2 separate regions of the Homo sapiens genome follow, and region 2 is linked to region 1. A link means that fine-mapping ties the variant in region 1 to the expression of a gene that starts in the linked region. Tissue or cell type: spleen. Region 1 holds a variant in brackets; the other region holds the start of a gene. All regions are shown on one strand. Distances are between the middles of the regions.

The links. PIP is the estimated chance that this variant, and not a neighbour inherited with it, causes the effect.
Region 2: GABRG3 starts here. The variant in region 1 is the best candidate, but not a certain one, in a credible set for the expression of GABRG3 in spleen (GTEx, PIP 0.56).

Annotation. Positions count from the first base shown.
Region 1 is chr15:26,907,751-26,911,750 of GRCh38, forward strand. The region is part of intron 6 of GABRA5 (gamma-aminobutyric acid type A receptor subunit alpha5); the gene reads left to right. Among named protein-coding and RNA genes, the nearest start is that of GABRA5, 43 kb to the left of the region's middle. The variant C/T (reference allele first, on the strand shown) is at 1,554.
Region 2 is chr15:26,968,868-26,972,867 of GRCh38, forward strand. GABRG3 (gamma-aminobutyric acid type A receptor subunit gamma3) reads left to right here and starts at 2,314. Exons shown (of 10, transcript NM_033223.5): 1 at 2,314-2,721. The coding sequence starts at 2,669.

The sequences.
Region 1 (4,000 bases):
CCAAAAGTTCAGTTTTCATATAGTTGACTGAGCTTCAGAATACATTTTTCCTTGAAATATTATTGTAAGCTGAAGTTAGGTTCCTAGAAAATCAAGCAGTGCCTAACTACAGGTATACAAATAACACACATGGTACATCGTGATACTGACTGCATATAATAAAACAAATACATCCGTGCATTCTTTTCTTTAGTAAACAAATTTGGAGTTATTTTTATGAGCACAGTAGTACAGGGGAGAAAAGTCTAGCCAGGCAGGATTTGGGCATCAGGCAGGGCTCATGGGAAAGTTTCTGAAGGAGAAACAGGCTACCTGTATTGCTAGCATCAGTAACTTATTAAATATATATGTATGTATGTATTTATACACTTGTATGCATGCATATGTATTTCAGTTCTTTTTAATTGAATATTTGGATCAGTATATCTTCATTTGCTAATCTTGATTTGAGTCAGTTCTAGGGAAACAGGCCTGTAATCCTTACAGCTGGGTTTCCTTTCCAAGACGCCCCACTCATAGCACAAACTATGCTCCGTGTGCATGATGTGAATCTCCTCTTCCATCCTTGCTAAGGATGTGACTCAGGTGTAGAGTGAAAATTCACCAGCAGCATCCCTACTGGTGTGCTGAATAAGCCCTGCACAGACTTGCAGCTATGAGTACACCAGAGGCACCAGAGTCAGGCTGCAGCCCAATAGAAGAATATTGCCTGCCGTCATGCCAGCTGCAGAATGCCAAACGCTGTGTCTCCAAACCCTGCAGGCTTTCCGATGGGGCACAACTCTGGTGCATAGAAAGTTTTCTAAGTTAAGCATTGGTGTGTTTTTTACAAGGCCTCTCAGGACTAGACAAAGATCATGATGAAATTAAGCCTTGTTTCTTTTCTGTAGCATCAATCTTTAGATACTGTGTTGATACTGAATTTCAAGGGTCCCTAAATAAATTCCTGTATTGCCTGAGAGTCACGGGTAGCATCTTCACAGGGAGGTCATGTTTCCAATAATTCCAGCTGAGGCACAGCATGCTGTTCAATAACTGACCCAGCTAGGATGCCTCACATGAGATGTCTATTTCATTATCAAAGTCTGAATTTTCACTGCAGTGAACATGATGTGAGCTACTTACAAATTGGCTAATATTACTAAATTTATTTGTCACCTTTGTGAAAATGATTTCAAAATATGCATGGGGCTGCTCTTTGGCACAATAACTGCTGGTCATTAGACTTGTATGAGCTTCCTGTTGCTGCTTAACAAATTACTACATAGTTAGTGACTTTTCAACACAAATTTATTCTCTCACATCACTGGAGACCAGAAGTCTGGAATGGGTCTTGTGTGTCTGAAATGCAGCTGTGGGCAGGATGGCCTCTCTTCTGGCTTCTCTAGGGGACAATCTGTGTCCTTGCCTCTCCCAGCCTCTGGAGGGGCCAGATTCCTTGGTTCATGGTCCTGCGTCACTCTTGCTTCCACTTCCGCCATCAGATTTCCTGCTCTGATTCTGACACTCCCATTTTCCTCTTCTACGTGGCCTCGTGATGACATTTGTCCCAC[C/T]CAGATAACCCAGGAAAACCTCCCATCTCTAAAGCTTTAAATTCACCACATCTGAAAAGTCCTTTTTGCTATAAGGGAAACATATTGACAGGTAGGAAGAGTTGGGACATGGACATCTTTGGAGACCACCATTTTGTCATAGCATCAATAGGAAATACAAATTTTGGCTTAAAACACAACAAAGTTATTGTCTTGTAATTCCAAAAGGGTCCCAGGAGGCTACAGTCAAGCTGTTGGCAGGATTGCATTTCTTTTGGACGCTCTAGGGGAGAGGCTGTTTCTTGCCTCTTCCGGTTTCTAGAGGACACTTGTATTCTTAGACTCTTGGCCACTTTGCACCGACCTCTGCTTCCTCATCACATGTTTTTCTCTGAATCTGACACTCTTGTCTCCCTCTTAGAAGGACCTTTGTGATTGTATTGGGCTCACATGGAGAATCCAGGATTATCTCTCCATCCCAAGATCCTTAAATGAATCACATCTGCAAAGCCCTTTTGCTGAGTGAGGTAGCATACTCACAGGTTTGGGGTTTTGTGCATTGGCACATGGACATATTTGCAGTGCTGTTATTTTGCCTGCCACTGTCACACCTACTGCATTGATGCAGGATTTCCACAAGAATAAGGAAGGCTTCGATTTGAAGAAGATTTTAGTAGAATTTTGGAGACTTTCTTTAATCACCTCATTGTCATTGAACTGGTAATAGCCAAAGCCTTTTTACCCTTTTTATACTTATCAATTATTTATTTCAGAGAATGAAATAAATGTTTTTTTTTCTTTTTTTTGACACAAGAAGACTGGACCAGATTGGTTAGGCAGTTTTACAAAGGTCACACAATTAGTTAATAGCAAAGCTACTCTAGAATTTGGCCATTTTACCCATCATAAAGCACTCTTCACCCATCAGCTGCTCCTGACCAAGCAGAGAGCTCTTTCTTGAGTTTAGGACCCTAAGCCCTCAATTACGATGACATAAATCCAAATTGAAGCAATTATCTTAAATTATAAAAATGCCCGACCGGGTGTGGTGGCTCACACCTGTAATCCCAGCACTTTGGGAGGCCGAGGCAGGTGGATCACAAGGTCAGGAGTTTGAGACCAGCCTAGTCAACATGGTGAAAGCCTGTCTCTACTAAAAATACAAAAATTAGGTGGGCGTGATTGCGGACACCTGTAATCCCAGCTACTCTGGAGGCTGGGGCAGGAAAAGAGCTTGAACCTGGGAGGTGGAGGTTGCAGTGAGCCAAGATCATGCCACTGCACTCCAGCCTGGGTGACAGAACGAGACTCCATCAAAAAAAAAAAAAAAATCCCATTTCCTTATCCTAAAATCAAGATGTTCTTCAAAAATGGGACATTATGCTTCAGTAAGTGAATGCTTGAATGTCTTAACAGAAATTGGAAGTAAAACAGAAATTGGACCTTTGTAAAAATACTGGATTCCTGGGTCTTCCAGTAATTCAGTGAAGTCTTTCCACAGTCAAGTTTCTTAACCTTTTGGGCTTGATTTTCTTTATCGAAAAAGTGAGGGTTTCAAGCAGGTGACCTAGCTGTCTCTCTTGCGCTATGACAGTCACCCACTCCACAGAGGCCTTGATCTCAGCTCTGTGTGGAGGCGGCTGGTTCCACATCAAAGCATTCCACATTTCAAGAGCCCCATGAATAGAAGGCTTTCTTTCACTGAGAGATACTTTTTGAGTATTATAAAAGCATAGGCCATTTTTGAAATGTTTAGAGGGATCGAAAATTTAAATTTATTTCCTGACTGAGGCTGAAACAGTTCTTATTGAGAGATTTATCTGAATAATACATTCATGTGTTAGAGGAGAGACACTATCATAGATGAAGTATACTTTCCTGAGGTTTAGAATTCTAAGGGGCTCTATAAAATTGGGAGAAGTCACAAGGCTCTAATAATAGCATTTATTGAGATGGTAATTGTAGAAAAACTGTCTTTTTTACATTTTTACTGGAGTTATTTTTTCTTTAAAAGTGCCTTTTTTTAGATCCAGCTAAATGCTGTCCACCTGTGTTTGTGTACCCTCCCTGCCCCCACCCTTGCTGCATGCACACACACACACACACACACACACAAACACACACACTCCTGCAATATGCTAAAAGCCAGCTCCTTGGTATGCATTCCTTGTCAGAATGCCATCTTTCAACATTGTCAGTGCAGTAATTTTCGGAAGGTGGGCAGTTCTCAGGGCCAAACAGCTAGAATGAAGCCCACCATGGCAGAAGGAGCGGCTCTGGTCCCTTTTATAAACACACGGTATTGGCCAGGAGAGGAGGAGGAATGAACCAGGAGCTGGCAGAGTGCCTCACGGGGCCTTTGGGATGAGGTTTCCCTGGGGTCTGCTCTGAGAGTAGGTGCATGCAACAGAAACGTCACGTCTGGTGCCTGCAATGGCCTGGTGGATTGGAGCTGGATGCCAGCACAG
Region 2 (4,000 bases), 61 kb after region 1:
AAAGGAAAAGAATAAAGAACACAGGGATGTAAAAACAGTATTGCGTTTTCTTGTTCACTGATTGAATTGTAAAAAAAATAATAACAACAAACAAATCTCAGGACACTTCTTGTTTACTGATATTTTACAAAATCACTCAAGTAACAGTCTATTTCTATTATAAACAACTTGTGAGTATTTTAACTCATGCTCAAAAAATAAATAATATGGTAAGAAGTCCAAAACTTTCATCAACTAGCCCAACAACAAATGTCAGCTGAGCACCTACTCAGGCAGACAGTATGGTATAGTGATTAGGAATGAAACATTGGAGCCAGCTGCCTGGCTTTTAACCCCCAGTCCTCACCTACTAGCTGTGTGATCCTGGGGTAAGCGACTTAACTTCTCTGTGCTTTTTCTCTATATGCGAAACGGAAATAATGTTGTGAGAGTTAAAATGAGTTAATCAATGTAAAGCCTTCCTGTCGGCCCTGGCCCCTGTTATGTGATCAATGTCAGATGGTTATTTTTACTTATGTTCCTATTACTGTGTTAAGAAGGGAAACACAAAAGAATTGTTTCTACTTGCAGCATTCTTGCAGCACACTCAGGCGTGGTGGCTCATGCCTGTAATCTCAGCACTTTGGGAGGCCGAGGCGAGCAGATTACTTGAAGTCAGGAGTTGCAGAAGAGCCTGGCCAACATGGTGAAACCCCATCTTTACTAAAAATACAAAAATTAGCCAGGCGTGGTGGTGGGTGCCTGTAATCCCAGCTACTCAGGAGGATGAGGCACGAGAATCACTTGAACCCGGGAGGTGGAGATTGCAGTGAGTCCAGATGACACTACTGCACTCCAGCCTGGGCGATAGAGTGAGACTCAAGTCTCTTATGTGGAGACGACATAAGCAATGAAGGAACAATAAATCATCATCTAACTGATTTTTAAAGTGCTCAGATTTTGGTACAGAAAATTAGAGATTAGGGCAGAGTATGATAAAGGCTCATATTCCCCTGAAGCCTAAAGGAGTGGTACAGGTGTTGGAAGTGGAAGAATGCAGGAGCGTCAGAGTCTTCATCAAAGAGGGGACCTTATAGGGCATGTGCACCTAAGTAGGAGGGATGTGCTGGGCAGAGGAGGATGAGAATGCCAGAAAGAGTCCTGGAAAGGCGGGGAGCTGGGTGAGTTCAGCACCTCACAGAGACAGAAAGGTGATGCCAGGGAGATGACAGCTCCATTGTTGAAAAACAATATTGTCATTAACAACTGCACTCCCCTCCACTTCATGCCTATCCAGAAACAAGGGGGAACACACCAGAGGAATACAGGCCCATGCCACCATGCCCAGCTAATTCTTTACTATTTTTTGTAGAGACAGGGTTTTTGCACATTGCCTAGGCTGGTCTCGAACTCCTGGGGTCAAGTGATCCGCCTGCCTCGGACTCCCAAAGTGCCGGGGTTACCGGCTTGGGCCACTGTGCCTGGCCGAACAAAGCTATTTGACAATATTAAAGAAACAGTTATCACACCCTTACATAATTCTATGAATAGCAGTTATAAAACATTTTCTAAGAACTTTTTGGGGGTGATAGAAATGTAAAATTCCTAGTGGATTTACTACACTGTTGCGATTGCAATACTTACATGGTGCAAGACTAACTTTCTGAATGATTATGACAAATGAAAGCGTAAATGCCATTTTCGGTTTTTGGAATATGAAAATACATGGAATGAGGCGCACCTCATGCTTCCACCAAACGGAACGTCTTTGGCTTCTTGCCTTAGGATCTTTCTAGCTCCTACCTTTAACATGCCTTTCCACCTCTACTGTTTATTGCTATGTGTTAGTCTCTCTTTTCTGTAAGAAAGGCATAAATCTGGGGTGCTTTTTTCCCAAATATTCCCGCAGAAAGCCACCTTTCCAAGCACAGAATCTTATCAGTGCCTAGGAGTTCAGCCGACTTAGCACGAAGAGTGCGATGGAAGGGCTGCTTTTGGCAAACCGTCTCAACCCCGGGCGACGGCGGGCACGGGAGGTCAGGGAGCGCTGGAGGAAACCTGCACTGGGGTAGAAATGGCTGGAGGAAGGCGGACCGCGGGCTCGCTCTCATGGTGCCAACCCCGGGGACCTTTCTTCAGGCTCCCTGCGGGATCCCCAGCCTCCCCTCCCCCTCGGAGCTCCGCCCCCTTCCTGGCCTCAAACTCCGAGTCCATTCAAACCTCGCCTTCCTCGCCCTGCGCGTTGTCAGGCGTGTAATTGGGGAAACTCCTCCCCGCCGGGACCGCCTCGGAGGCGCTGCCAGGGGACAGCCGCCCAGCTGCCCCCACCTCCCAGCACAGCGCACACAGCCCCGGCCTGGGCACCCGCGCCCGCTCGCGGCTCCAGGCGGGGTGGGCGGCGCCGCGCCAGGGGGTCCCCGGCGCCCATTGCTCCCGCCGCCCGGTTGCGCGGACCGGCGCTAGTGCGCGGGTGGGGGCGGCGCGCCGCGGTGGCCCGGCGTCCCGTGTGCGTCCAGTGTGCGCCCCGCGGGGGCGCGGCCAGCGCCAGAGTAGATACCTGTCCCGCCCGCCGCGGCCAGCAGCCTCGGAGGAAGCCAGGGCAAAGAGGGCCGGCGGAGACCAGGTCCGCGCCGGAGGAAGCCGCGCCCGGCCGAGGCCCCGGACCCTGCGCCCCGAGCTCCACGGCACCATGGCCCCGAAGCTGCTGCTCCTCCTCTGCCTGTTCTCGGGCTTGCACGCGCGGTAAGTGGCGCGGGGGCCGCATCCCCGGAGGCCCCGAGCTGGGCGACAGGGCGGCGGGGGGCGCTGTCTGCTGGAGTCCCTGGCGCGCCAGCCGTCGGCTGGGCTGCGGCACGGCGGGCCGGGAGGGGACTGGGAAGTCGGTCTGCACCTCACCTGTCCCAGCTCCCTTGGACACGGTCATCTGCTTTTTCCTCTGCAGCCGGGAGTGTGGGGACTCAGATTAATGGGCTCGTCTCCTGACGCTTTTAGGATCTGGTGGTTTTAAGGGGTTTTGAGAACCAGGTTCAGGGGGCAGGGGCCATTTCTGGCTCCTTACCGACCCCTAATTCCCACCTCAGCTGTTTCAGGGGCTCACACACACACACACTTTGGCTGACATTCTCTGTCATTTCCATCACTCTGAAATTTCCAAGAACCCGGGAACCGTGGTTCTAACTGCCTAGTTTAGACCGGGCTGGAAAGAGCTAATGCATTGGAGGCAGGCGCGGGGGGATTGGAACCAGGTGGGCAGAAGAAAGCCCTGCTTGTCTGGGAGGACTCCCCTCCCAGGTCCTGCAAACACACACACACACCTTCCACATCAGCCACTTTCACACAGAGGAACACACGCACTCCCACCCCCATAAAGCACGCATGTCGAAATGGATAATAAGGCTTCTGCCTGGTAATGTAAGAAATCATCTCACCATAAATTCCGCAACCTTCCTCCCAGTACACCAACCGGCTAATGGGAGCTTAGAATCACTCTAGAAGAGATGAAGAGGGCGCATGAGGATACAAGGACAGTGGGACCCAAAGGGTTAAATCCTGTTGCTGTAAACACAACTGGAGATTCTGGGTTTAGTTTCTTTAATTCTGTCTCTCTGGCTGGATTTCTGGCTAGAGCTTGCAGACTGTCCTGTTATTTGAAAATTGGAGCAGTGTCTGGCCTTTACCTCTTTCCCCACCCTAGGAAGCTCAGCGTGCCCCTATCCCCCAAACCCTCTTGTTTTGACGCTTCTCCATTTCCTGGGTCTGGGAGCTAGAGAATCAGAGGGCATCCTTGCGTGCACAAGCCTGGCCACCATCAGGAGGCAATGCCAGGAGGCCTTGCCTTTTCATTCCTATTTGTGAACTACCAAGGAGCTAGGAAGACACATGAATAAATCCTACTAAACATGAAGGGGGCCCCCAGTTCTCACTCCTGAATTGGGCAGGGGTGCTTACCCTGAGGAAGGAAGCCCTGGCCCTCCCCCTTGCAACTGCTCCTCTTTGCTGAGTTGAGTGTGGAAGCCGACTC